Linked DNA regions of Homo sapiens. The protein of the gene in region 1 interacts with the protein of each later gene in a biochemical or structural test. Each region holds a gene or a part of one and is shown on either strand. Other genes may lie near its edges.

Evidence for each region.
Region 2: the proteins of MAP2K4 (region 1) and GEMIN5 form a complex in vitro, tested with the Homo sapiens proteins (one study listed by BioGRID).
Region 3: the proteins of MAP2K4 (region 1) and FLNC form a complex in vitro, tested with the Homo sapiens proteins (one study listed by BioGRID).
Region 4: the proteins of MAP2K4 (region 1) and NBR1 form a complex in vitro, tested with the Homo sapiens proteins (one study listed by BioGRID).

What each region holds. Positions count from the first base shown.
Region 1 is NC_000017.11:12,135,499-12,143,752, reverse strand, and holds part of MAP2K4 (dual specificity mitogen-activated protein kinase kinase 4), read right to left. Parts: intron 3,915-8,254; coding exon 3,869-3,914; intron 2,607-3,868; coding exon 2,493-2,606; 3' UTR 1-2,492. UniProt on the Homo sapiens protein: Dual specificity protein kinase which acts as an essential component of the MAP kinase signal transduction pathway. Essential component of the stress-activated protein kinase/c-Jun N-terminal kinase (SAP/JNK) signaling pathway.
Region 2 is NC_000005.10:154,892,402-154,900,655, forward strand, and holds part of GEMIN5 (gem-associated protein 5), read right to left. Parts: intron 6,910-8,254; coding exon 6,790-6,909; intron 6,250-6,789; coding exon 6,039-6,249; intron 3,943-6,038; coding exon 3,691-3,942; intron 149-3,690; coding exon 1-148. UniProt on the Homo sapiens protein: The SMN complex catalyzes the assembly of small nuclear ribonucleoproteins (snRNPs), the building blocks of the spliceosome, and thereby plays an important role in the splicing of cellular pre-mRNAs.
Region 3 is NC_000007.14:128,825,300-128,833,711, reverse strand, and holds the start of FLNC (filamin-C), read right to left. Parts: upstream 3,307-8,412; 5' UTR 3,075-3,306; coding exon 2,723-3,074; intron 1-2,722.
Region 4 is NC_000017.11:43,208,455-43,212,683, forward strand, and holds the end of NBR1 (next to BRCA1 gene 1 protein), read left to right. Parts: intron 1-1,102; coding exon of another isoform or gene 1,103-1,189; exon of another isoform or gene 1,190-1,408; intron 1,409-1,446; coding exon 1,447-1,620; 3' UTR 1,621-3,234; downstream 3,235-4,229. UniProt on the Homo sapiens protein: Ubiquitin-binding autophagy adapter that participates in different processes including host defense or intracellular homeostasis.

The DNA.
Region 1 (8,254 bases):
GAAAATCAAATTACAAAGTCATCATCACATCCTAGATTTATTACAACTGACCTGCAGGCAAAAGGATAGAACTATTACATAAACACTTCGATTCCATGTATATATCTTAAATAGAGGAGGAATTCAAACAAGAATACAGGATAAAATATTCCAAAGCTCCAAGAAGCAGTTATGTTACTGAGCTCCATTTTTTACAGACAAATAAGGCAATATCCCTGCACATTAGCTTTTTGATAATTTTTATACATTTTTCTATGGTACAAGAGAAAAATAACCAGAGCTCACAATGTACAGTTCTTACACTATTTTCACAGTTTGTGAACACTATACACCCTTTTGTTTTAATAAAGATACATTGTAATAAACTCCTTGCCCTTAAGTTTATAGTTTATAATAATCTATGATTAATACACTAAAATTGCCTTCTTATGTGGTCATCCACACAATAGAACGGTCAGATTAGCTCCTGGACAGTCAGAATTGCTTTTATCTCCATTTGCATAATGGCAAAGTGACCCTATGCTGAGCCAGATGGGAAGTTGACAGCAGAGAAACAGATTCCTCTTGAGTCCCCGGGAGCAATGGAGGATGATGGCTTGCTGTGGTCGAAGGCAGACATAGAGCAATGTCTCCTTTCAGAACAGTGGGAAGTCTAAAGTTTAGGATACCGTGGGGGAGAAGATAGGGAAATGAGGCAAGTAGATCAAAGAGATAATCACTTTTGAATTCTGCAATTTACAGGGATGTGACTTTAAACAGCACCATTCTCCCTTTATTGTTTGACAGTATTTATGACTGTCACTCTGAGAGGAGACACAGCAATACGTGCCACGATTTGGTTCTGTAATGGCATCACCTGCATCTCAGGCCATGACTGTTTTATATTCCAGTGTGCTTGAACCACTCACAGTGCTGCTTCACTGTCATACAAAGCCTAAGGTTCAGTGCCAGGGAGGCCCAAGCAAAACCTAATGAGAACCTGGCTAATGGGTAAGTGAAGAAGCACAAGATACTTAAATGGCCTCTTGTAACAGTGCTGAGGGTTTTGTTTTGCTTTTTGTATTTTTTTCCAGTAGAATTCCAATGCCAAGAAATGGTGATGGACTACGAGAGGTTCTAGCAGGTGATGAACGTAAAGGCTGCCGTTTCGGATCCTCATCTGGTCCAATGTGTCTCTAGAAAAGATGCCTCTTTATCACCTACCACATCGGCTGGGCCCCACTATTCTTAGCCTTTTAAACACTAGCGAATATGAGAGATTTGGGGCTAAAAATCCTTGGTAAGGAACATCCCTGCTAACTGTAAAGGTTTTTTGATATAGAAAAAAGGCAAAATATTGGATTAAGCGCAAGTCACATAGCGACAATAGACCACAGGGGAAGGGAAAGAGATTCGGAAACTGAAGACCTGGACCAGTGATGGCAAGAAGCAAACAACTGAGATTTGGTCTTTTGCTGCCTACTAGAAATCTTTATCTAATCAATCAAGGCACATTGCTACTAGCTACTTCTCCCTGTTAGTGAGTTATGATGGCTAAAGTATCAGGCTTGGGACCAAGGGGAAATATATAGCTGCTACAAGTTGTTCCAGATAAAATACTAGAATTAAAAACATCTGTAAACTTTGCCTTCTGTACTGTTTTCTTCTTTCAGTCCTGGTGGTTTGTGGCAGGTGGAACATCAAGTTGGCAGCACACCGAATTCTGAGAATGAAAAATTCTTAGGATCAGCACCTTCTTTGACAAGTGGCAGACTCCTGAGTCTTCCCATTGAAAAATAGGACTGGTAAAGGAGAAAAGAACACATTCTGTCCTGTCTCTATATTTTAATGTTCACCTCTTTGAACGCAACATGGTTTTTGGTAAAGATAAATTCATTCTAATTTAACATGATATTTCAAACAGGAAATTTGGCTGAGCACATCGATCCCCAAACATCAACTGTAACTGTAAAGCAACAGAATATCACATCAGTAATCTATTGCACTTGGTGAAGAAAGTAAATTCCTCCTTTGTCTCCCAGCTCCAGAAGGCAATGTGTCTCGTTGGCTGTGCAAGCTCTTCTCACTCAAGCCCGAGTTTCTATGTTCAGACATAGTACATTCATCACTGTGTCCTTCCAGGATTTGGAAGTCTGACAAAACACCATTCCAGTAGCTGCATCTCCAGGTTTTGAGTCTAGAAATGAATTTAAGATGTGATCTAATCACAGTCAACAACTTGATCGTACTGACTTCCACATTTCATGAATATGTTCATCACAAAAGAGCAGGATGAGGTCTCTCTGACCAGCACTAACACTGTGTGATCAATCAGGTATTACAAGGATGCACGTTCTAGGTGACAGGAGTATACAGACATGATGGAAACGAACACCAATCTTATTGCACATGGTGTCTGGGCGAGCAATAAAAACACTGTGATACGGGATGAAAATTCTTTACGTCTTGCTTCCTCTCAGCCCTTTTTTCTAGAGTCTGATGTAGCAGCGATATCAATCGACATACATGGGAGAGCTGGGAGTAGCTGGCATTTGATCCAGGATTTTACAAACATAGCATGCGACCTCAACGGCACGTTCTTCATACATCAAAATAAAGGGATGTTTCTGCAAGAAAATTGAAAACAAAAAAGTCAAAAGTTTGTATGACAGCCCAAACTGAACATTTTCCAATTTCTATAGAACATAGAACTCCAGGCTCCCAACCACACATAGCTATGAAATACCGCAACACTACAAGTTCAGAGAGGCGAGTACAGCCTTTATTCCATGCAGATATGCTAATGGGCATGGGCATGCCTAGAGAGAGGATACGTGGTAATGATCTGAAGGTGCCACCTTGGCAGTGAGGTCTGGAAACTCATCTGTATACCAGGGAGTGTTTGTTGAGGAAGACAGCCAAGTTGTCACTCAGCACAAAACATAGCTGGAGCCTCCACCACACCATCTAAGAGCTAAGAAGAATGACGCAAATGCCAGTCACTATTCCTCTTGGGACACCAATATAAATCTCAACCTCCATTTCTCCTATATACAACAGGAGGACCTTTTTACAAAAAGGTCGCAATCCTTTTGACCTCTTCTTTTGACCTTTTAACAAAAAGGCTGTAATTCTTTTGACCAAAAGAGGCCCAAGAGAAATTTGCCCCAGGAGCTTCTTCCCTGTACTCTCCAGAGCCAGGGTCCCAGTATCTGCTTCACTAACCCACCTTTTAAAACTCCATCTCTAGCAACAGTTTTCTTTTACAGACTAAGTATGTTGACTAGATATTTTTACAGTCATTGGTGGACTGTGATATAAGTTTGTCACAACATCCTTGAAGAGCTAGTAGTTAAATGTGACAAACAAATGGATCTTTTCTTAAAATATTCCCACATTATTAGATCACAACACTTTCTCCCTGCCCCACCAATGCCATACCCAGTAGACTGCTTAAAACACCCAAGTTCCATGGGATGAATGAGAACTTTCAAAGAAATGGGAATAGGCTATATGACGTAAATTTGCATGAATTTTATAAAGGCAGAATAAACACAAATTTTCACTAATTTTTTTCTTATGGCTGCATCCCATATAAATAGACTATGCAGTGGAAAATGGCTTCTTAAAGTCAGAATTCTTTGGGGGTAATTTTTATAACATGTTAAGACCAAAATTTTCCATGAGAATTTAGCTAGTATTAGTAGAAAAATTATAACTGCAAATTTTCTCTTTCCAAATCTTTGTGTAAAAACATTAACAAAAAACACTCAATAAATTTGAGATGTTTGTTTATGACAGAGAGGCCCACTGCTTGCTTAGTGAACCAGCATGTTAAGAGAGTTCCGGGGTTAGGATGTACCTACAATCCCCACAGTCCCACACTCACCAGAAGCTCTTTATACTTTGGCCTTTTGGATTCATCCTTCGTAAGGCTAAAATAACATAAAAATAACATTATTAAAATGTAGATTCATTTGCCTAAGTATTTTTCTTTTCACAGATGAAATATTACAAATAATGAAATAGTTCTTTCCTTCAGATCCAAAGTAACAACGCAGACAGCCTGCTAAACACAGTAAAAGCACATACAAAAAATTGTGAGTCTATAATCTGAAGATTTATCTCTAGGATAGTCAGTGTAGGATGATTAGTTAAAAATTAGAAAAAATATTAATTCTTGAAAATTGACTAAATTATGGCATAGCTACACAGAATACTACAGTTAAATATATAAATGTTTTATAAGTATAAAATTATTTGTGTACATATATGCTTTTCTAAATGTAAATAAATAAGTAGACAGATATTTATGCAGATACTACCCAAGAGAAACCAGCAATCAAGTAATTCTGGGAGATAAATTACATATACATTTTTATCAATTTATCCTTAAGTTTTAAAAAAGTTTATACTCTGTATCTCAATATGTTCTTTGGTCCAAAAGTTTAAAACAATATAACTTCACTGAAGACTACATCAGTATATAAAAATGTCTGCTCTGTTGACATTTTCTCCTTGAATTCTACCTTGCCTAATTAAAGCTGCCAAAAGTATTTTCATTTTGTTTATATTTACCTCATCTATCTTGGCCCATATCTTAATCACCATTCCCTTCCAACCTCAATTAATATTTTACTATCAAACATGAATTAATATGGGTAACATAGTTCACCTCTTTCTAAACTCATTGCTGTTTTCCATATCCCACACCTTCTGTAACAGATACTGCAATGTGCTATGTAGATTCCCTCTTTAAGAAGGAAGGACTTATTCTTCCACTGTGGGGCAAGCCGCCAGCAGACAACCCTTTACTATCGGCCTCTTCAGGATTACCACAGCTAAAGACAGCCACCTTAGCCCTCCTGGGACAGTCCATCTCTAATGACTGATCCACAAAAGTGAATAAAAATCCAAGACCCTCATTCCAAGGCAGGTCAACACAGAGTTGGCTGAGGCCTTCAATGACATGGCACTGCAACTGAACTTCTTCTGCCCAATCTCGTTTCCTTCTCATTGGTAGTGTTGATCCCAAGATCACTACCTAGTCAACTTCCTACACTCTTATCTCTGTCTCAAAAGCCTGCTTTCCAGGCATCCAACCTGTGACATCCTTCTTCTGGGTTAACTTCTCTTCTTGGTCAAGTACAGATGGCCCTTGAGCAACACAGATTTCAACTGTACAAATCCACTTATACATGGATTTTTCTTCTGCCTCTGCCACCCGAGATAGCAAGACCAACTCCTCCTCTTCCTCAGTCTATTCAATGTGAAGACAAGGATGAAGATCTTTATGATGATCCACTTCCACTTCATAAATAATATATTTTCTCTTCCTTATGATTTTCTTAATAACATTTTCTTTTCTCTAGCTTACTTCATTGTAATAATACAGTATATAATACATATACAAAATATATGTTAACTATGTTATCAGTAAGGCTTCTGGTTGACAGTAGGCTATTTGTTAGTAGTCAAGTTTTGGGGTAATCAAAAGTTATATGCGGATTTTTGACTGTACAGGGGGTCAGCATCCCTAACCTCCACACCATTCAAGGATCAAAGCAGTCTATAAATTGTAAGTGCTCAGTCTTCCCATTCCTAAAACTGTATTTCTTCCTTACTGTGAATATTTGAGTGTCTGAGTCTAAAACTTTAGGACCAGGCTGACAATTATTTTCCCTCAGCACTCTGGTGCTGTGACTCCACTTTTTCCTGCAACTATTGTGGCTGGGAACAAATCTGCTGTTAGTCTTATTATCAATCCTTAACAGATAATCTGTTTTCTCTTCCTGATATTGCTCGGTAATTTTGCTTCAATACATAAATGATGATAAACAAAGGTATAAATTTAAAGGTAAATTTAAATATAAATTTAAAAGGTAAATTTATACCTTTGTTTATCATTTATGCACTGAAGCAAAACTACAGAATATCAATTAAAATTTACTTTTAAATTTATATTTAAATTTACCTTTAAGCTTATACCTTTGTTTATCCTACATGATAAAGAGACTTCACTTTCAATCTGAAAACCTATACTAAATCAGTTCTCAAATGTTTTCTTTCCCCTATGATCTCTGTAAACATTGCTTCTCCACTTTCAGAGTTGCCTTCTTTATTTCCATTACATGCATCTTAGAACCTCTAACTCTGCAATCTGTTCTGATTCTTCACTGCTTTTCATATAATCTGTGCCATGCTGGGGGAACGTCTCAGCTCCTATTTCCCTAATTTTGTCTTCAATTATTTCCAGTCTAGAGAACATCAAGTCTGTTGTGTCTTTTATATCAACAGCTATGATTTTTCCATTTCCAAGACTTCTATTTCCAACCACTTTATTTCTTCCTCAGTTTTAATTGAATTTATACCTTTATTTCCTTGAGCATCCTAAATATACTGATTTTCTTTTACAGCATATTTCAGACAATTTCATAAATCTATTTCAACTTAAAGTAAGTTTCTGTTCCATTTTGTTAAATGCTTTCTTAGCATTACACTTCAGTATTCAAGAATTATGATTTGCAGACTCATTTTGAAATAACATGTTTACCCTCCATGCATATCCATTCATTTGTTCAACATATGTCTGAGTGCCCCACTAATCACTATGAACTGAACTGGGAGCCAGGGATACACACATAGAGCAGTTTTACAGTTGCCTCTATTTCACAGGGCCACCAGTATCAAACAGGGTCCTGTAATGGACCTTTCAAGTTCCACTCCTATGTTGGTATTAGGACAATTACAGTTCCAGTCCTCTGGTTGCAAAACCAGTATCTAAAGCCTTGTCATTGTGTAGTACCATAGCTTGCTTAAAGCTGTGGCCCAGGAAGTAACTGATATCATTTTTTTCATTCTCCAGAATGAAAAATGACCTGGAATACAGCAAGTCCATGGCATCAGATCTACACAGCATTCTGTCAGTATTTTTGTTGCATTTTTTCACCCACACAGAGGTTTGCTTTCTTTGTAAAGCTGCCATACCTTTCTGGTTTTGTGTTTTTCTATTTCATCTACTGGAGCAGAAAATTATGTCAGTGTATAAACTTATGATGCTATTTGGGTTGAAATCTTAAACTATTAACATTGACTGTCTTCTTTTTCTGAATTACAGCTGACACTAATAATGTTATCAATAATTATATTAGCTCCCCTTAGACTATCTAATAAGGTAGCCGTTAGCAAACTTAATTCCAATAAAAAATGCATTTCCTTAGTTACATTAGCCACATTTCAAATGCCAGCAGCTACCACACTAGACAGAGCAGATTATAGGACATTTCCAGCATCTCAAAAAGTTTTATTGGGAGAGCTTCAGCTCTGTCTTCTAGTTCATTAATCTCTCTTCAATGATATCTAATCTGTTGAATGCAGCTATTGTTTTAATTTATGCTTTTTATTTCTAGAAGTTCTATTTGGTTCTTTATAAATGTGTTCCCTGCTTATATTTCTAAGCTGCCTCTTTTTCTTTAAACTTATTTTTTGTTTCCTTTCATTCCAATATTTGAAGCCTTTGCAGATCTATTCCTACTATCCATTGTTTCTGATTCTCATTTCTTTTGTGAGTGTTGAGATTTTTTTGTGGACTACATATTCCACTTGACTTTATTTTTTGGAATCATTTAGTCCTAGGCTGAATGATTTGCTTTTGCTTCTGCCCATCAACTGGGGGCAAGAGGAGCATATCTTTCCAACCAGGGACTCTGAAAAGTAATTTTTCTTAAAATTAAATTCTCTAAGTATTTTTACCATATTCAATATGAATTTAGATGGCAAATCTACATTTGCTTGGGTTATCCTTTAATTTACTTTGACTCTTCCTTCTCTCCCATAATCTCCCTCCCTGAATTTCAGTCAACTTCAGAGCTCCATGGATTCCTCAGTTTTGCACCAACTCTTTTACATTTTAAGAGGGACTTTAGGTGGGGCACGATGGTTCACCCCTGTAATGCCAGAACTTTGGGAGGCTGAGGCAGGCGGATCACCTGAGGTCAGGAGTTCGAGACTAGCCTGGCCAACGTGGCAAAACCCTGTCTGTACTAAAAATACAAAAATTAGCTGGGAGTGGTGGTGCGTGCCTGTAGTCCCAGCTACTCAGGAGGCTGAGACAGGAGAATCACTTGAACCTGGGAGGTGGAGGCTGCAGTGAGCCAAGATCATGCCACTGCACTCCAGCCTGTGCGACAGAGCCAGACTCTGTCCTAAATAAATAAATGGCACTTTAAAATGCTTATCCAGGCCAGGTACAGTGGCTCACGCCACTGTAATCCCA
Region 2 (8,254 bases), on another chromosome or scaffold:
CTGAGTACACTTCCTGCATGATGGTGAAGCTCCCTGAGTCATAGCTCCGGACCACCGCCCGAAGGAGCGCCTGCACAGCCTCGTCCCAGGAGGCCATCTGTTGGCTCAGCACTGCCAGGGTCAAGTCATGGCAAATGTGAAGCAGGAGCTGGAGAGAGAAGCCAGAGTCTGAGTTAAACATCCTCCCACGGTAGGCGCAGAGGATGCCACCAAACTGTTCCTGTGAACCGCATTTGGAAACAAGTACACACAATTCACACTTTGAAAGTTCCTCTTGTCTCCGCCACCCATTTTTGCTTCCCACATCGGAAACTCTCATGTCTAGTTGCACAGCAGCACACACACGTCCCGGTGTTAAAGTCTGTTCACACTGAGAAAACACCTTTACATTTGCATTTAATTAAAACAAAAAGTGGGCCAGGCGCGGTGGCTCATGCCTGTAATCCCAGCACTTTGGGAGGCCAAGGTGGGCAGATCACAAGGTCAGGAGTTCAAGACCAGCCTGGCCAACATGGTGAAACCCCGCCTCTACTAAAAACACAAAAATTAGCCAGGCATGATGGCGCGTGCCTGTAGTCCCAGCTACTCGGGAGGCTGAGACAGAAGAATTGCTTGAACCCGGAAGGTGGAGGTTGTGGTGAGCTGAGATTGCGCCACTGCACTCCAGTCTGAGCATGAGAGTGAGACTCCCTCTCAAAACAAACAAACAAACAACAAAAACAAAAAGTGAGTTTCTGGAACTAAAAGCTGTAATTAAAAACAAAATAAAGGCTGGGTGCAGTTGCTCACACCTATAACCCCATCACTTTGGGAGGCTGAGGCGGGCGGATCACCCGAGGTGAAAGCCCGTCTCTAAAAAAAAAAAAAAAAAAAAAAAAATTAGCCGGGCTTGGTGGTGCACGCCTGTAATCCCAGCTACTTGGGAGGCTGAGGCGGAAGAATTGCTTGAACCCGAGAGGCGGAGGTTGCAGTAAGCCACTACACCCGAGCCTGGGTGACAGAGTGAGACGCTGTCTCAAAAAAAAAAAATCAAAACCCACCAAAAACAAAACAAAACAAAGCTTGGAGTACAACTAAGAAAAATGTGCTCAATTTTAAGTATGTAGTTTGAGAAACATATATAGTTACAACACTACCAGCAAAATCAAGACAGAACATTTTCATCAACTGAAGATATGCCCTCCGGCTCCTCTGCAGGCGATCTCCTGGCCCCACCCCACTGGCAACCACTGAACTGGTTGTCACTTTAATTTTTTCTTTTCTAGAATTCATATAAATGGAACCACAGAGTATATAGTCTTTTGTGTCTTTAAAGCTTTTGAGATTCACCGATATTCTTCTTCTTCTTCTTTGTTTTTTTGAGATGGAGTCTTGCTCTGTCGCCCAGGCTGGAGTGCAGTGGCACGATCTCGGCTCACTGTAAGCTTGGCCTCCTGGGTTCACACCATTCTCTTGCCTCAGCCTCCAGAGTGGCTGGGACTACAGGAGCCCGCCACCACGCGCGGCTAACACCGATATTATTTGTGTGGCAGTAATTTGTTCCTTTTTACTTTCTTTTTTTGAGACAGGGTCTCATTCTCTTACCCAGGCTGTAGTGCAGTGGTTCCATCTTGGCTCACTGCAGCCTCCGTCTCCCAGATTTGAATGATTCTCCTGCCTTAGCCACCCTAGTACCTGGGATTACAGGCTTGTGCTACCACACCCGGCTAATTTTTGTATTTTTACTAGAGACAGGTTTTTGCCATGTTGCCCAGGCTGGTCTCAAACTCCTGAGCTCAAGCGATCCACCCGCGTTGGCCTCCCAAAGTGCTGGGATTACAGGTGTGAGCCACCAAGACTGGCCCTTTTTATTGTTAAACAGTATAGTATTTCACTGCATAGACACAACACAGTTTGCATATCCATTCATCAGTTGATGGACATTTGGGTTGTTTCTAGTTTTTGGCTACTGTGCACTAAGCTGCTGTAAACATTTGTGTACAAGTCTTTGTGTGGCCATCTGATTTCATTGTTTTAGTGGAATATCTAGGTAGCAGAACTGCTGAGACATGGGGCATGTGCATGTTTAACTTTATAAGAAACTGCCTGGCCAGGCGTGATGGCTCACACTTGTAATCACAGCACTTTGGGAGGCCGAGGCAGGTGGATCACATGAGGTCAGAAGTTCAAGACCAGCCTGGCCAACATGGTGAAACCCTGTCTCTACTAAAAATCTGAAAAATAGGCTGGCTGCAGTGGCTCATGCCTATAATCCCAGCACTTTGGGAGGCCGAAGTGGGCAAATCACGAGGTCAGGAGTTCGAGACCAGCCTGGCCAACATGGTGAAACCCCTGTCTCTACTAAAAATACAAAAAATTAGCCGGGCATGGTGGCAGGTGCCTGTAATCCCAGCTACCCGGGAGGCTGAGGCAAGAGAATTGCTTGAACCTGGGAGGCGGAGATTGCAGTGAGCCAAGATCATGCCACTGTACTCCAGCCCGGGTGACAGAGTGAGACTCCATCTAAAAAAAAAAAAAAAGTAAAAATATTAGCTGGGCGTGGTGGCACATGCCTGTAATCCCAGCTACTTGGAAGGCTGAGGCAGGAGAATTGCTTGAACCTGGGAGGCGGAGGTTGCAGTGAGCAGATATCATGCCACTGTACTCCAGCCTGAGCAACAAGAGTGAAATTCCGCCTCAAAAAGAAAGAAAAGAAAAGGAAAAAAGAAAAGAAAAAAAGAAACTGTCCAATTGTTTTTCAAAGTATATACCATTTGAGAAGCCTTGTTCCTCATAAATATCATAATGTTCCCTCATTTTGAAATGAGGGAAAGAACTACGCCAGGCACAGTGGCTCATGCCTGTAATCCCAGTACTTTGGGAGGCTGAGGCGGGAGGATCACTTGAGGAATTCGAGACCAGCCTGGGTAACAGTGAGACCCAGTCTCCAGAAAGGAAAAAAAAAAAAAAAAAGAAGTAGGTATATTCACAAGGCAGACATAGCAGTTAAAATAAATCAACTGATCTCTTTTTATCAACATGGATAGATTTTACAAACAATGGCCTCTGAAATAAGCAAACAGCAAAACAATACATGTGGCACTGACACAGGAGGTGCCTGTGGCGAGCTAGGGAAGGAGTGAAGGGCTGAGGAAAGGAACAAGAAGGACTTCAACTTTGCCCTACTGTTTTTATTTTATAAAGTCCTCAAATCAAAATACAAAATGAAACCAGAAAACCCTACAAAGTAAAAATGACAAAATGTGAACATCTGTTAATTCTGGTTGATGGGTTATTACATTATTCTGCTTTTCTATATTTTCTAGACTTTTTATTTTACTTTTTTAGAAAAGGAAATAGTGGCTGGGCGTGGTGGCGCACGCCTGTAATCACAGCTCTTAGGAGTCTGAGGCGGGAGAATCACTTGAATCTGGGAGGTGGCGGCTGCAGTGAGCCAAGATCATGCCACTGCACTCCAGCTTCAAACAACTAAAAAAAACAAAACAAAAAAGGGAATACTGATCTAATACTAACTTTAAAGTTAAAGGGCTTTGATTAGTCTAAAGGGATCTTTCCAGGTGGCGTGGCCATGCCTTAGCCTTTTCTGAAACACAGTCCAGTATTCTGCTTGTTTCCCCGTTACAATAGACATGGATTAAGGAAGTCTTACCACTGAGTGATTAATGTCAAATGCTGGTACAGATGGCTTACCTGTTTGGCAGGTGTGTTATTTGTAGCAGATGGGTACTTGATGTTCTGCAGCTTCTGAAAGGCTTCCTGATACTGCTCAGGGGTGTCAAGGCTGAAGATGCTCTTCCACACTGCAGTCACCCTCTCCACGAAAGGCCCTTCGGTGCCCGTGTTCCAAGTGTGGTAAGAGGAGGAGCTTTTGCCCTCTGAAAGCTGCTTTTCCTCCAGATGCCTGGACAGTAGCTCCAGAAGGCAAAACACCAATCTCTGACCCTGGAACACGACAACAAGGAAGAGGAACTGTTATACAGGGAAAGCACTGGATGATCTCGAGAGCTCTCCCGTGTCCTTCAAAGTATTTCCCTTTGTATCTGCAGCAACCAAAGCACATTAGTGAGCTACCTGCCCCATATGAGTCATGCATGAAAAGAGACAAAAGGGGCGATCTGACAGACACTTCCCAGGTCCCTTTTGGGGGAAATCTATCCTTAGAGCTCAAGAAACCATTTTTATAACACAGAATCCCAACTGTAGCACTACCCACAATGATTTAAGCCACACACAGACCAGCCACTTAAGCCTTGTAGCCTAGTTTGAGGAAAAGAAGGGCTGGGCTCATCAGGTTCTTTCTCCCTGACCAAACTTTGGACTCAGGAATAAAAGCATAATGGGCCAAAGGTGCTGGAATAGACAAGCTTTGCAGATCCAAGAGCTGGGACAGGCATTAGGAGCCATGTCCAAATAGGTTTAATAGAGGAAGCTGGCTGGGAGAGAAGAAAACAGAAGCACAGAGAAGGCCTAGAAAATCTACTTTCACTAGATTTTTAGTTGCCATGAGATTCCTTGTGTACTCCTATAACAATATCTTCTCAGTTAAGCTTGCAAGAGTCTCTGTTGCACAAAACCAAAATAGCCCTTATCAGAATATTTAGCATATGCTTATTAGGTTTTTTTGCTTTGTTAAGGATGCTGTTTAAGAGAAAAATAAAATGCTAAACAGTCATTCTGGAAACTTTTTTTGATGGTGGATAAATTAAAATCTTTCTAGACTTGGTCATTTTATAAATAATGCCCAGTGGCATTATCTTTTAGGGTGTCCTATTTTCACCTCCATTTTTATTCTGCTGTTCCTAGAAAGCTACCTCCCCATGTACCACGTTCCTTGGGCTCTAAATATTCAGCTAAAAACCATCTGTAGGCCCTGTACTCTGTTAGAGAATGAAGAACTTAAAAAACCTCTTGTTAGTATCTCACAAAGTTATCTAAAGTGAATCAAATGTTTACATGTTTCAGAAACTAGGTAAGTGTGCCAATGCTTTAATCTGTTTTGATGTGTCAAAAAGGCAGTGGTATGTTACTGATTTTTAATCAGATGGGAACAAAAAAATTTAAGAAATAAAGAGATTTCCATTTTCCCACACTTTTCTCTTTTTTTTCTGAAGAGTCTCACTCTGTCACGTAGGCTGCAGTGCAGTGACACAATCTTGGTTCATTGCAACCTCTGCCTCCTGGGTTCAAGCAATTCTCCTGCCTTAGCCTCTCAAGTAGCCAAATTACAGATGTGTGCCACCATGCCTGGCTAATTTTTTTATTTTTAGTAGAGACAAGATTTCGCCATGTTGGCCAGGCTGGTCTTGAACTCCTAATCTCAAGCGATCTGCTGCATCTGGCCCAGTTTTTTTTCCATAGCTTACAGTTAAGAGGGGCATTTACAGGTAGAGTTCCATGATTTCTGTTAGAGGCCAACCATTCTCTCTTCAAGGAAGACAGTGCTGATAACATCAATGAAGAAACCCTAGACTGCCAACCCAAGGCCTGGGCTGACTAAGGTGTTTTTTTTTGTGTTTTTTTTTTTTTTTTTGAGACAGAGTCCCACTATGTTGCCCAGGCTGGATCTTGGCTCGCTGCAACCTCCGCCTTCCGGGTTCAAGTGATTCTCCTGCCTCAGCCTCCCAAGTAAGCTAGGATTACAGAAGCGTGCCACCACGCTCGGCTAATTTTTGTATTTTTAGTTGAAACGGGGTTTCACCATGTTGTCCAGGCTTGTCTCAAACTCCTGACCTCAAGTGATCTGCCTGCCTCGGCCTCCCAAAGTGCTGGGATTACAGGCATGAGCCACTGTGCCCGGCTCACAGGTGTTTTGTACAAACAGATAAGCAATGGGAATTACTGTGAATGACCATATTATCTCTTACTCTGAATACGGCAACTAACAAGTCATAGTACTTCAGTGGGATAGCATGGCCAGGGCTTGCTGGGCCTGCCAAATTGGCACAGCTTGTGCAACTGGGTTATTAACTTGGATTTGACTAGAAAAGGATTTGGGACACTTCCCTCTTGTATACTAGGAGATGAAATAACAGACTGACCTGTAGACTTTCATGCAGCTGCAGGGCTTCCTGGGCTCCCACCCAGTTGTTGGCCAGAAGCAGCTCTTGGGCACATCTGAGAGCCAGGGAAGCAGACAACTCATCCTCTCCTACGATGGCAGCCAACTCTGCAGCCGTTCTAAGTGATGCCGCATCCCCCTTTTTGGCCAAAACTTTGGCTGCATCATAAGCACAAGTGGCCCCTAAATAGCTATAATATGAATAAAAATGTGAAGAAAATGTCACAAACAGATTTTTATTCCCATTCCTAGAGGATGGAATCATTTCTTTCTATCTACTTTGCTGCATGTGCCTTCCTGTGGTCCCAGGTATGTCACTGCCCCGGTTGTTCCTGTGAAGGCTGAGGCCAACACAACTCAGCAGAGTGTATGAGAAACAATATCATATAGGTTAAGGACATAAGGAAAATGAGAGGGAATGACTCCTCTGTTGGGTTCAATCCAGCATGGGTTGAGGTTCCTTTATTTGATGTTATAAGAGACCATTAGAAAAATGCATAATTTCTTAATCTGCTGCTGAGGTTTTTCTTGAATAGTTATAGTGATTTATATAAATAAATCAGGAAGTAGTTCCTGATGAGTCTTATGAAACTAAGTTGAATATACATATCTTTTAAATAATTCCTTGCTGCTTTACCTCCACCTCTAAACTTATTACTTGTATTCTTGTCCTCCCCTTCCTGGCAGAAGCTCTCCTATGTTGGAAGCATCCCTCCACTCCTCAGGCTTACCATTTGGCAGCTACAGCATAGTGGCCATCTCTTTCTAGGACGGTTCCCCAGCTGAGGTACAAGTCCTTCAGGACTGGGTCCTCCGGGCGCAGCCGGGCCTTGGCAATCGCAATAGCTTCCCTAAAGGCAAGAACAGACCCTTTAGCCAATCTGAAAAGGCTCCTCTGTGTATGGTCCTAGGAGGGGCTGTAAGACAGGACAAACTGTCCCTTTTGTGTTGTCTTATTGTTCCAACTTCCTTTAAAAACTGCACTTGCATTATATAGACAAATTAGAAACATATGCTGCATTCGTTTCTTCACTTAGATCAGCAGTTCTTAAATTGTGGTCTGTGGATTCCTAGGGGGTCCTCAAGAACCTTTCAGAGGGTTCATGAGGTTAAAACTATTTTCGTAACAATGCTAAGAGTCAGTTATGTGCTTTTTTATTAAAAAAAAAAAAATGTGTTGACATTTGCACTGATTGTGCCAAAGCAGTGATTGGGAAACCTGGCATCTAAGAAGGAAGGCGGTGGCTCTTACAGTGGAAAAAAAGGAAGAATGCCCTTAATGAAGCAGTAAAAATTACAAATTTTACTAAATCCGTCAAGTCCAAAACACTTTAATATTCTGTGTGACAAATGGGAAGAACATTTTGTGTTCTCTGCTGCATTCCAAAGTAGAATGGTTGTCTCTAGGTAACACCTGTATGAACAAATTACAAGCTAAACTGGCTGCTTTTTCATAGAACCTTCTTTCTTCTAAAAAAAAAAAAAATGACTAACATAAATAACAGTTATTCAGTGTTGGGTATTTGGCAGATGTTTTTCTCAAAAATGAACAAAGTAGGCCTATCACTTCATTAAAAACAACCAACAGTATTTGTTACTAATGATAAAATGCGAGTTTTCTAGCAAAAATTAGAATTTTAGAAAACTTGTACCTACCACTTGTGTGCCTGAGTTTCCCATAAGTTAGAATTTTCTGATGAGACTGATGGTGATAGTAAGGAATGTGGTATTTTTGGGTATTTTATAATAAGATATGTTAACATTTGGAAGATCTGAACAACTCAGTAAACAAATATTTTTCAAATGACATACAACTGCTGAGTTGTAGCCAACATAAAGTTGTAGCTGGGAAAAAAGTGTTTTATTAGATTAAAGTGATCTAGAGAGAGCAATATTTTGAAAGTATTTTGGGACTTCTACTTCCAGCCATGATGGAGTAACTGGGACCAGACTTACCTTTCTGCCATAAAACTAAAAAACTGGACAAAATGGCTGAAACAACTGTTTTTAGATACCAGGTAACAGGCAGCATAGGATGGTCAGCCCTAAGAGAACAGAAACAAATGATGGGAGCCCTATCTTGGCACTGGCTTTCTGCCCAAAGCCATTTTCCTAAGGAAAACCTGAGCAAAACCTCAGCAGTCTCTGAGTTGAGAAGAGGAAACAATGGAAATCTGAGGGGCAGGATACTAGGAA
Region 3 (8,412 bases), on another chromosome or scaffold:
GCCTCCAAAGCTCACACGCCCAGAAGTACTTCTTGCAAACTGGAGCCAGACCCCTGGGCAGGAAGCCTTGAGGCTGCAGGGGTTGGGGGGGGCGGTGTGTATATGGGGAGGGTGGTCATTCATATTTGCTGGAGAGGGAAGTTTCTCCCCAGCAACTGGCCCTGGGCCAGACAGCAAGTGGTCCAGGCTTGGGGCAGGAGAAGGGCAGTGGGGCCCCAAGTCCCACTCTGGAAGCAATGACCTCCCTCTCCCTCCTCCCTCTCGGAGGCCAGGCAGAGGAGAGGAGCTCAGCGCCACCAGGGCTCACCAAGCCACTTCTCCATCTGCCTAGGGATACCCCCAAAGGAGTGGGAGGAGCCAGACAGCTAGTTCCCGAGGCCACCCCAGGCCTCAAATGGAGGGGGAGGAGAGGGCTGGGCCTAGGGAGGTGCTGGGACAGCTGCTGCCCCCTCCCGCCCCTCCCTTGGTTGTTGGCTCCAGGAGAAGGAATAGCAACTGGGGAACAGCTGCGAGACAGAGCTGCCTCATAGGCCTCTTTGTTCGGAGGGAACGAGGGGCAACGGGGGGCCAGGACAAGGTGGTGAGGATATGAAGGGCACAGCTCCTTTAACCTGGGCTCAGTGCCCCTTCTTCAGGTGGGCTTGGATCCCAGCTGCTACTCCAGACCCTGACTTCCCTCCTGGAAAGAGAAGTGGGGAGTCTTTCTGACACCCCCTGAGGTGCCCAGATGCTCGATTTCGGTGCTGAGACAATACTCAGAAGGTGGCCCCATGGATAGCCCCTTTCCACCACTAAATGGAGTAGGGGAGCTAGCAGAAGCAGGATGCCCCTGCCTCGTGGGCAGCCCCTTTGAACCTCCTCATGGTGGGGCGCCCCAGCTGGTCGCTGCCGGTGTCCCCTCCCCTCCAGCCTCAGCCTGGGGCCGGCAGCTGAATTGCTGACAGCTTATCTCATCAGCGCCAGTGAGCCACTTGGCCCAAATGGGGACTGCCTCCCCTTCCTCCCAGCGGGAACCAGGGAGCTTCCCTCCCACCCTCAAACCAGCTTTTGCTTCTTCCCCTCTGCTCTGAGCCAGCCCCTCCTCTGCTGAGCCAAGGGGGCTGGAGCCAGGCACCGCCACGGGGGAGGGGAGAGGTGTGCTCAGGAAGGACGAGGCCTGGAGAGGGGCCGAGAGCCCCCGCAGACTGGAGGGGAGGGGAAGGCTGAGCGGTTTCCTATATGTCTTGCCGAAGCCTCCGGCTCTTCCCCCAGACCCCACCTGGTACAGTCAGTCCTGCCTTTCAAAACCCAGCCTGCTGAGGATGCCGGCCCAGGACTGACTCCTCTCTGACCCCTCAGCCTCCATCACGTAGCCCTCAGTCTCACTACACACTCCAGGCTCCCTCCCCCACCCCCTGCCCTCAGCCTTGTCCTTCTGGAAAGCTCAGAGACATCTGCTGTGTCACGGAGGCAGGGCTATTTCCAGGACAGGGCAGGCGGGTGGGGTGGGGGGGCAGTATTGGGGCAGGAGGGGGTAAGGGCTAGGGAGGGGACTGGACGGGGCAAAGGGCCCTGGGCTGACCTCAGCTGCTATATCAGGAGGCCTAGAGATGGCCCCAAGGGAGAGTGGGGCTGACAGACATCAAGTCATCTGGAGAAATCTCAGGGAACATCCTGTGTGGGGCCCACCTGGCCCCACATGAAACTCCCCTCCTGGGGCCGTGGGGTGCACCGTCCAAGGACCTCGTCCTGCAAATCCCAGCAGGGTTCTTAAGAGCTCTCCACAGGGGTGGGCGGGGGGATCTTCCCCAGGCCCCCAGCCTCAGGGATGACTGCAGGACTCTGAGGGCAGGACAGCCTCCTGCCACTCCAAGCCCACCCTTGGCGTCTCTGCTCCCAAGACTAGAGTGCCTCCCCGCCCCCACCCTGCACTACACACCTTCCAAATCTGGTTACACTCAAAGACTTCCTCCCTTCCACAGGCCTTTCCCTCCCTCCCCGCAGCCCAGACCGTTAGCTGCAGCCAATCCCGCGGTAGGGGGTGGGCTGGGGCAGGGCCTGGACTTGCGGAAGCCCCCTCCACCGCAGGCTGAAGCAGGAGGAGGACAGACAGGGGTTAAGTCTCCCCGCGCTCGCTCAGTGCCTTTTTAGGTTTCTGAGGCTGGGCCCTGCCTGTCCTGGCCCCCGGGCCTGAACCCAGCTGCTGAGCACATGCACGAAGAGGGCCTCCCGCGCCAGCTCCCCTCGGCCCCAGAGCCCGCAGACGCGGGCAGTGGTTGGGGACCTGTCTTCAGCCCTCTCCCAGCCCGCGGAGGGGCTGTGAAGCTGGGAAGCCACTTGTTTTGTTGGGGGCGGGGAGATGCCCCCAGGAATCAGTGACAGGCACTGGTTCTGTCCTCCCGAGTGTGGGCTAGGGTTGCCCGATGGAAGGAAAGGGAACGGTGAGCCGAGGCGGGAGGTGGGAATGTGCATGGGGAGGCGGCAGCTGGAGGGCTCGCAAACCCTAAGGCCTGGACTCCCCGGGGCACCCAGGGAGTGCTCGCTGTCCCCAGAGGGGTGTGCAGGCAGTGCCCATGGCCCTTGTCGATGGGTGGGAGGGCCGGGGCCAGGGTCTTCTCTCTATACCGGGGGGTGCCCTCCGCCCTGTCTCTCAGCTCCCCGCGCGCCCACCCCGCACCTGTGCCCCTGCCCCATGGGACGACCCTATCCCCGCAGCGCCCGTGCCCTCGCCCCCGGCACTGACCTATGGACACGAGCTTGATGTGCTCGCGCTCGAGGAACTCGAGGGCCACGGACACGTTCTCCAGCTTCATTTGGCGGAAGTTGGGGCGCGGATGGAACTTGCGGTACATGCGCTTCTGGCTGAGCACCTCGAGCAGCGCGATGAGCCGGAGCCCGTCGCTGAGGTCGCGCTGCAGGTCGGTCAGGCGCTTGCCCACGCACTTGAGGTGCTCATTGCACCAGCGCGTGAATGTGTTCTGCTGGATCTTCTTCCACGGCGCGTCCTCCGCCAGGTCCTTCTCCGTGGACGGCATCTCGTCTGTCTCATCGCCCAGGCCGAGGCCGGCGTCTGAGTAGCCGCTGTTGTTCATCATGCTGGCGCGGGCTGGGGGTGCGGCCGGGGCTAGGGCCGCGGTTTGGGCTATCGGGGGCTGTCGGGCGCTGTTGGGGCGCGACCACGGGACTCGCTGCGCTGCGCTGCTCTCCTCTCCAACTTCTCTCGCGCCGGGGCTGGCGGGGCTCGGCGAGGCTCGGCGGGCCTCCTAGGCGCTCGGCCGCTCTCTGGCTCTCTCTCCCTCCAGGGCCGGAGCGGTGCTCGGGAAGGGCGGGCTGGGCCGGGGCGGGGGGTTTAAGAAGCCCCCGGACCGCCGCCCCCCCGCCGCGCCCGCGGCCCCCGGGTCCACGTCAGAGCGCCGGCCTCCCAGGAATGCCGCCCGGCCCGCGGGTGGGGGCCGCGCCGCACAGGACGCCCCGCCCCCGCCGCCCCTCCCCCGCGCCGCCCGGGCGGCGGGACGGGGTTGAGGGCGCCCACCCCCTGGGCCCCCGGTGCCGCCGCGCTGGAAGGTGGCGGGGAGGGCCGACAGTTCTCCATCCACACCCAACACACCAAACTGTCAGGAATGAAATATGCTCCCTCCACACCCCGCACGGGCTGAAGAGGTAAATGGGGAAACTGAGGCCAGTGATTAGGGCAAAACCCACTGATCTGGTGTTCACAGAATTTTCTAGACTAGTTGGTGGCAGGCTGTTGACAGGGCCTGCGAGGGCTGGCTCCTAGCCCAGGGCATTGTCCACCTGTGGACAGGGAAGGGAAGTGTGTGTGCTTGTGCAGAGACGGCCTGAGAGGAAGCAGGGACCTTGCCCGGGCCAATGAAGGAGAAGCCTGCGGGGGGGCGGGGGGTTGTGTGTGCCTCCCAGCCATTGCTTGACTTTACAGATAGAAAAGCCTCATGTAGGGCCCAAATCCAGAGGCCCAGGAGTAAGACCGGGGCCCCTGCCCCTGACTCAGTGTCCCTGTCACCAGCCCGTTTGGCCTCATCGCCTCGGTATGAAGCTGAGCTCAGGAAAAGGGTACCCAGTGACTCACACTGTGTATCCCCCTCCCCCAAGTCTGACTCAACTGAGATGATAAGAGGGGAAGGAGAGACTCTTCCCCCATAGTGCCAGGGAGCCCCCTGGGCAACATGCCCATTTGGGCCACAGGGCAGATCCTGCCAGGGAAAGGGTGGGTCAGCCAGGCAGAAACAGGGAGAGCCCCAGCCAGAGCAGCCAGGGGGAAATGTGACCAGGTGGGTAGGCAGGACCAGGGGCAGAGTGGTCAGGGAGAGCCTAAGGGAGCCAGCTGGGATGCCCAGGCAAAGCTGCACTCAGGGCAAGCCAAAGGCTGCAGGCCTGGGGAATAGAACAGCAGGGAAACCGAGGCACCCAAACAGACTCTGGCCTGGGGTGAGGAGAAAGAGCTAGAGAACGTATTTCTTTTTCTTTTTTCTTTTTTTTTTTTTTTTTTTTTTGAGATGGAGTTTTGCTCTTGTTACCCAGGCTGGAGTGCAATGGCATGATCTCTGCTCACCGCAACCTCTGTCTCCCAGGTTCAAGCAATTCTCCTGCCTTAGCCTCCCAAATAGCTGGGATTACAGGCATGCACCACCACGCCCAGCTAATTTTGTATTTTTAGTAGAAACGGGGTTTCTCCATGTTGGTCAGGCTGGTCTCGAACTCCCGACCTCAGGTGATCTGCACGCCTCAGCCTCCCAAAGTGCTGGGATTACAGGCGTGAGCCACCGTGCTGGGCCTAGAGAATGTATTTCTATAAGGAGAGGATCCATTCTGCAACTTTGTAACATACGTGCAGCCATATCTCCCAGTTCCCCCTTTTTCAAGCCATGTGTCTTCAGCTTTCCCATCCTTCTAGACCTAGTAAGTCTAGCTGAGCTGGCTAGGAGGCCATATCTGAGCCTGAGAAGTTTCTTTAAGCCAGGGAAGGTTCTGGGCCCTTTTAGATGAATCATTATATCTAATTCCTCTTCTACCCCTAGACCTGGTGTAAAAGAAGGGATAGTGAGCATCTTTGGGGGCTCTTTCCCCCAAGGGCCAATGAGGGCACCCCCTGTTACGGAGCTGAGGAAAAAGTGTCAGGGTTCTGTGGGGGCAATGCTTATGATGACAGGGGTCTATGAATGAAATTGCCTGGTCCTTAGGTAGGGAGGGGGAGGAGTAGAGAAGGGACCAGAAAGAGCAAAAGGACCTGCTGTGTGTGGCTGGAGGTGGGGGGAGCTGTGGGGACCCTGATAGTGACAGGCGAGGTATAAATAGCCTGGGCCCTGCGGCTCATGTTCTGTCGGCTGCCTGTGACGAGGTGCTCAGGAATTCCACTCTCCTATTGGCAACCCCTTCTCCCTATCTCTAGAACTCTCATTCTCCCCAAGCCACCTTCAACTCATGGCTAAATCCACCCATCAGGCACCCGTGCTGTCCATACACTTGAGAGGCTGAGCTCTGCTGTGGAGAGAGGCCCCGCTCCTAGGACACGCAGCTGGGCCTCACAAGGGAACTGTGTATGTACAAAGGCCGACTTCTGACAGCCAACCTGATGTGCCAAGGGCTCAGGGTTCAGCAGTGCTGCCTCTGAATCCCTGGTGAGTAAACTGAGACACAGATCTGAGAAAGGATGCATTCCTCTTTGAGCTGCTGGGGAGGAGAAAGGGTTAAGGTGAGGTAGCTCGGAGCTGACAGCCCCTTTACAGACCCTAATGGTCCACAGTCCTGTTTTGCAGGCATTATCTGAGGTCCCCCAGCCAGCTGAGCGCCTCTGTTCAGGTGGAGAGGCCGGAGGAAGCCAGGGAGGGGAGAAGGAACTCCCAGCGTAGCTTCCCTTGCTTTCCCTCTGACTCAAGAGCTCGCTCCAGGGGAGGTCAGTGTGCGGGTCCCAGGGGATCAAGTGAATGGTTGGCAGAGGAGAGGAGGGTACAGAGTGCCAAAGGATGATTCCCGTCACCCCCCGCAACCGTCCTCAGAAACCTGAGCCTGTTGCTCTCCAGGATAAATCGGGGCCTGACTCAGGCCCCAGCAGCCAGTGACACTCAGCCTGACCCAGGCGCGGGCTGGTGACTCAGCCCTCAATATAGCCCATGAGCCCAGGCCCTGGGCCTGGCCAGCCAGGCTGGAACAGACCGTGCACAATGCTGGGCCCGGCCTGCCAAGTAGGGCCCCCTCCCCGAGGAGCGCTGACATGCTCCTCCCCAAGCCAGGCAGGGGCACACAGGGGGTTACAAGGGGTTTCATCAGCTGAGTATCTGGGCAGTGCTGGCTGGGGCCACAGGCTGTTTATAGCCCCCTGACTCACCACCTGCTGACCTATCTCAGGAGACCAGGTTGCCTGGCTCTTCACCTGGTCCTGCCTCTGCCGTCAAGGGGCTCTGCTCATCAGCCACCAATACTGGCCATATTTATCTTGGGCTGAGCTGAATCCAAGTGAGCGGATACAATGAGCCATGTTTGAAAATCCTGTTTTTCTGGAACCAGGGACATTTCCACAGTCACCTGTGATGATACTGGGCTGGCCAGGTCATAACAGGCACTTTCAGTGATACTGATACTGACTGTGGCTCTGACCCAGGTTCCAGGGACAGTGTGGTAGAGTGGAATGATCCATGGGCTGAATTCCAGCCTCTCTACTTCTAGCTCTGCAACCTTGGGCAAGTAATGTAGCTCTTTTGGGCCTGTTTTCTCGTCTTTTTTTTTTTTTAATGTGTGAAAATGGAAGGAAATCACAAGAAAGATGATTAGCATGGTGCCTGGCATCTAATAGGTGATCCAAAACAATTAGTTTGCTTCCTCTGATTATCTTGGAGACTAAGGGGTTCTGGTGAGAGAGGCCTTCCCCTGCAGCTCTGTGTCCACACCTCCGTGGGGACCACTGCCTGGATCTCCAGGCTGTTCCCCTCTCCCCTTCCCTGCAACCCAACATTCCCTCTGCCACAATCAGAACCGGCAGTACCTGTCATCTTTAGAACCACCCACCCTGCCCCAAAAGCAGCTGGTCCTTGACAGGAGTGGCAGCGGGTGGCTGCTCTACCTCTTGGCCTGGGAAGGGAAACCAGACAGGGCTAGGCTGCAGGGAGCTCACAGAAAGGAGGCAGTTATGCAGAGGGCAGCAGCGGGGAGAGATGGAGGCTCCTGAAGGTGCTTTGAGTCCCTGGTTCTAGCACACCTAGGCCCAAGTGCACGCCTGCCTGTGGCTTCCAAGGCATACCCCTCCAGACTTAAGATCAATCCCTCCTGTCTTTTTTTTTTTTGGTATAAATTTAGAGGGTGCAAGTGCAGTTTTGATACATGGATATATTGCTTAGTGTGAAGTCTGGGCTTCTAGTGTAACATCACCCAAATAATGTACATTGTACCCATTAAGTAATTTCTCATCCCTCCCCTCGCCCCATGCCCCGACCGCCCCCCTACCCCTCGCCGCTCCAAAGTCTCCAATGTCCATCAGTTCACATTCTATGTCCCTGTGTGCACATTATACACATTCTTTAACTCCACATTTTTTTTTTAAAGACGGAGTCTTGCTCTGTCACCCAGGCTGGAGTGCAGTGGCACAATCTTGGCTCACTGCAACCTCCACCTCCTAGGTTCAAGCGATTCTCCTGCCTCAGCCTCCCGAGTAGCTAGGATTACAGGCACCTGCCACCACGCCCAGCTAATTTTTGTATTTTTAGTAGAGACGGGGTTTCCTCATGTTGACCAGGCTTGTCTTGAACTCCTGACCTTGTGATCCACCCACCTTGGCCTCTCAAAGTGCTGGGATTACAGGCGTGAACCACTGCGCCCGGCTTTAACTCCACTTATAAATGAGAATATCCTACTGCCTTTTTTTTAAGCTAGCTCAAGTGAATGTTTCACATTCAACAAAAAAGATTCCTCTTAAAAAAAAAAAGATTCCTCTTTAATACGCCTGGGTAACAGTGTATCATTAAGACAAGGAGACAGTCCAAACCAAATGAAGAGAATGGGATTCTAAAATGAACGGAGGGCCGGGTGCAGTGGCTCACACCTGTAATCCCAGCACTTTGGGAGGCCGAGGCGGGCGATTCACTTGAGCTCAGGAGTTTGGAGCAGCCTGGGCAACATGGCAAAACCCCATTTCTGCAAAAAATACAAAAATTAGCTGTGCGCGGTGGTGAGCACCTGTAGTCCCAGCTACTCTGGAAACTGAGGTGGGAGGATGGCTTGAGCCTGGAAGGTGGAGGTTGCAGTGAGCCGAAATTGCACGAGTGCACTCCAGCCTGGGCAACAAAGCCAGACCCTGTCTCAATCAATCAATCAATTAATCAATGAAATGAACAGAGAAGGACATGTCCTAAAGGGAGGGGTTTTGTAGTCTAAGCAAAAAAGTGGGAAAAGCAGGCCCACATTCCTGTCATTAGGCAGGGTCTA
Region 4 (4,229 bases), about 31 Mb from region 1:
GCTTAACATGTTTGCATACTGTTCTCATCTTTACATACTTTTTCAACAACCCTGCAAAGTAGGAGGTATGATATATCTTCAGTTCATAAAGGAATTGATAGCACAGTTGGTAAGTAAATGGAAGATTAGGGTTTGAGTCTAAGCCTATCTGCCTCCCAAGTTAATAATCTTTCTGCTGCACAGTTTCAGTATCCCCAGTCTGTGAAATTGGGATAATAACAGAACCAGAGGCCAGGCGAGGTGGCTCACATCTATAATCCCAGCATTTTGGGAGACCAAAGTTCAAGGATCACTTGGGCCCAGAAGTTCAAGACCAGCCTGGGCAACATAGGGAAACCTCATCTCTAGTAAAAAATTTAAAAATTTGCCGGGCGTGGTAGCGCAGACCAGTGGTCCCAGCTATTTGGAAGGCTGAGGCAGGAGGATCACTTGAGCCCAGGAGGTTGAGGCTGCAATGAGCTGTGTTCACACCACTGCACACCAGCCTGGGGAACAGAGTGACACCCTGTCTCAAAAAACAAACAAAACAACAACAACAACAAAACAAGCGTTTAAGGATTTAGGAAGGTAATGCTTCCACCACAGGGCTTGAATGAATGAATGTTAACTTCCTCTTACCTATTCTTGTTTTTTTTTTTTTGAGATGGAGTCTCGCTCTGTCACCCAGGCTGGAGTGCAATGGCGCGATCTCGGCTCACTGCAAGCTCCACCTCCTGGGTTCACGCCGTTGTCCTGCCTCAGCCTCCCGAGTAGCTGGGACTACAGGCGCCTGCCACCACGCCTGGCTAATTTTTTGTATTTTTAGTAGAGATGGGGTTTCACTGTGTTAGCCAGGATGGTCTCAATCTCCTGACCTCATGATCCGCCCGCCTCAGCCTCCCAAAGTGCTGGGATTACAGGTGTGAGCCACCGCACCCAGCCCCTCTTACCTATTCTTTTGGAGGAGAAAAAATCAAGAAGCCTTCCCAGGTTGTAATTTCCCAAGCTGTTTTTTTTGTCCAGCTCCTCTGCATATCTGACAAAATTTCCCATAGCATCTTTCAGTAACACTTTTATCTTGCTCATACTTCCCCCATCATCACAATTACACTTATGTTCACAGGGTCTCTGGGGCTTGCTGTCATTCCTTCATCTGGCCAAAAAATGCTTCTTCCTGAAAGCCCCGAGTGAAGCATTCTCCTGGTTCTAAGTACAGTTCATTAGCTCCCCGGTTTCCCTTTTCTCCTCCTTCAAGTACACAGATAACTAATCTAAAATAGGGCCTTCCCAGTCCGAACCGTTGGTATCAAGTACACAGGAGTGCCATAGCCTTGAATCTAATTACCTAGTACTTTGAATAAATCTGGAAAGACTAGTATGCTTGCAAGATGATACAAATGTATAAAATAAACATTTAAATTATACAGAATTTTTTTTTTTTTTTTTGCTTTGCTTGTCTCTACACAGCCAATAATTTCTGAAGATCAGACAGCAGCCCTGATGGCCCATCTCTTTGAAATGGGATTCTGTGACAGGCAGCTGAACCTACGGCTGCTGAAGAAACACAATTACAATATCCTGCAGGTTGTGACAGAACTTCTTCAGTTAAACAACAACGACTGGTACAGCCAACGCTATTGAGGAGTGACCTTGTATTAAATAACTGCCTGCTGCTCAGAGATGATCTTTATTCTGTCATTGGGGTATGGGATAGAAGCCCTTGCTTATTTTTAATCTGATGAATCTGTATAGAGCCCATCGTTGAGTTACCAAGACAATACCTGCTACAGTATTTTGGGGAGCAAACTAAAGACCAGAACTTAAATTTTCACTTTAGACATTGGATGAATAGTATGAAGACAGTTTTTCAGTTGATTTGGATAAAACTATTTTAGTGCATTGACAAGTGTAACTTCAACTTCATATAGAACCATTTTTCTTTCTGCTTTTATTGAAACTGAGTATTTTTCTTTGGCTAATGTGGATTTTTTATGGGGATATCTGTTAATTTTCAGGTTTTGAAAGACATTAACCTCGGAAGTTGTTTTTAAGAATTATTCTCATAATTCTTATTCTCATAATTTCTGTAATCCACCTCAAGCTTCATAGTTATTTGGCATTGAAATAACACCCAGAGCATGATAGAAATGTTGTTACTCTTCCTCTCTCAAGGAGAAAGTAATTTTCCTGCAATACTTAATAATTGGCACCGTTGCTTTCTAAAGACTCCATGGTGCATTCAAGAGTATCCAACTTCAAGGGAATCTCCGCATTTCAATGAAAGGAGGAAGAGTGTGCTGATAAACCTACCAGCACCTATTGAGCAATGTCTATTATAGTAATTTTGCATACATTTTTATTTAAGGGAAAAAATATAGGTATTGTGAAATATTTTGCTAATCTTATAGAAAAGGAAAAAATCCCGTTATTTAAAGGGAAAAGTAAATTTAACAGTTGCCTTTTTTCTTAATGTCAGGGCAGATCTTATTTTACAGTACAGTGGGGGAAATAGAAACATGTGAAAGGCAAAAGGCAGGCTCCTAAATTAATGTCAGTGAAGTTCAGGGTGGGCAAATGAGTGTGTGTGAGGTATAGGAAATGCTGATGACTTCTTTAATGCTTGAAGTCCGTTCACAGGTATCTAGCCCTAGAATGCCTAGAACAGGAAGAGGCAGCTGGTGTTCTGCAAAACTTGGACAGGGGCAAAGTTGCTGAAAAAGTTTTGGTTTAACCCGAAGATAAGTGGAAAAGAGCTTGTCCATGAACCCAGGTTCTCACTCTGTTTACAGAAGTGTGTTGAGTACAGTTGGTGAAGGAAGAGGTAACAAAAAATGCTAAATATTTTATCCATGAAAATGACTTCCAGAAAAGGAAGAATATGAACCCCAGACCGAAGGGGAAAAGATAGTTAATAGTATTATCTAACCTGGTTGGTATTTGTAATGAATGGTGATTTTAATTAGTCATTAGCCATAATGATGTTTATTTACAGTATAACTCCTGAATGCTACTTAAATAAACCAGGATTCAAACTGCAAGCCAGCCAGGCCGTTCATTATTTAAAACGTTTTAATCGGGGCTTCCGGGTAGAAGGTGGAGCGGCAGGGTGTAATTGGGTTGATGGGTGGGACCTGTCTTGACCATCGGAGTTTTATAATCGAGGGCCAGGAGGGCCCGGGTTGCTCTCCTGGTTATGTATGTACTTGTACATAACCACCTAAAGAATGGTGAAATAAATGTTCTTGGAAATTCCTACCCGGACTGGCTAGTCCTTGCGGAAGCAGCGTCCGGGCCCTCGGGTAACGTTTGAAGAGCTGGCAGCGTCTCAGGCTGCTGCGTGGCGAAGGGGCGGACCGGGGGACGGGGGGGTGGGCCCTTAGGGGCTGGGGCGGGACTTCCCTGGGCACTGAGTCAAAGCTTGAGGGGAGTGTTCGCTCCCGCATTTTCGATTCCACTCTCTTCCGTTTCTGTCGCTGCAGTCGTCCGCGGGTAAGGCCCTCCCTAGACCCTTTATACCTACTTTACCTTTCGGAGGTCAAGACACCTCCTGTTGCCGCCTCCTCGCCCAACACACAGGCGCCCCCCGCACGGGTACCAAGCTTGACTAACGGCCTCTAGGGGTGTGTGGTGGGACTTGAAATCCTCCCTTAATGAAGTCACACCTTCTCCGTCCGCTTCCACCCGGTCGGCCCATGGCAGAGCCCCCATGTAGCCCAGGAATCGGCTTGGCCCTTCGGGGAGGTCAGCGTCCTTACTATCCCCACTCTCCAGTGCGGCACATTCGTTCCCCTAGGACTCCGGCCGGTTGCCGGCCCCAGGCGGTGCTTCTCCCCACCACCGCCCAGCTCAGCTCAGCCCAGCCCAGCCCACTCTGCCCTTAGAGGCCCTTCTCCCCAAAGACGCACTCCAGAAGTCTCGCCCTCGTGCGGCTGAGGAGCCTGGGATCCCAGACCTGAACAAGGTGAGCATCCCTATATTTTAGCCCAGAAAGATCTGTGTGGCTCACTTGCCGGCCTCGTTCTGTCACACAGAGTCCAGATTTAGCCTTGAGTTTTCCTAGTGAAAGACAGACCCTGGTATCACTATGACCCTCCTCAGGCTTTCTTACCCCGCCTCAGAAAGCAGTGAGGTGTCTGCTTTCTCCCAGGGCTTCTTTAGATAGGGGTCTTAACCACACCTGTGACCAGTCTGGCCTCCTCTCTCCTTGATTCAAAGAATCTCTTTTCTGCCCTATCCAACTTCCTTCCCTT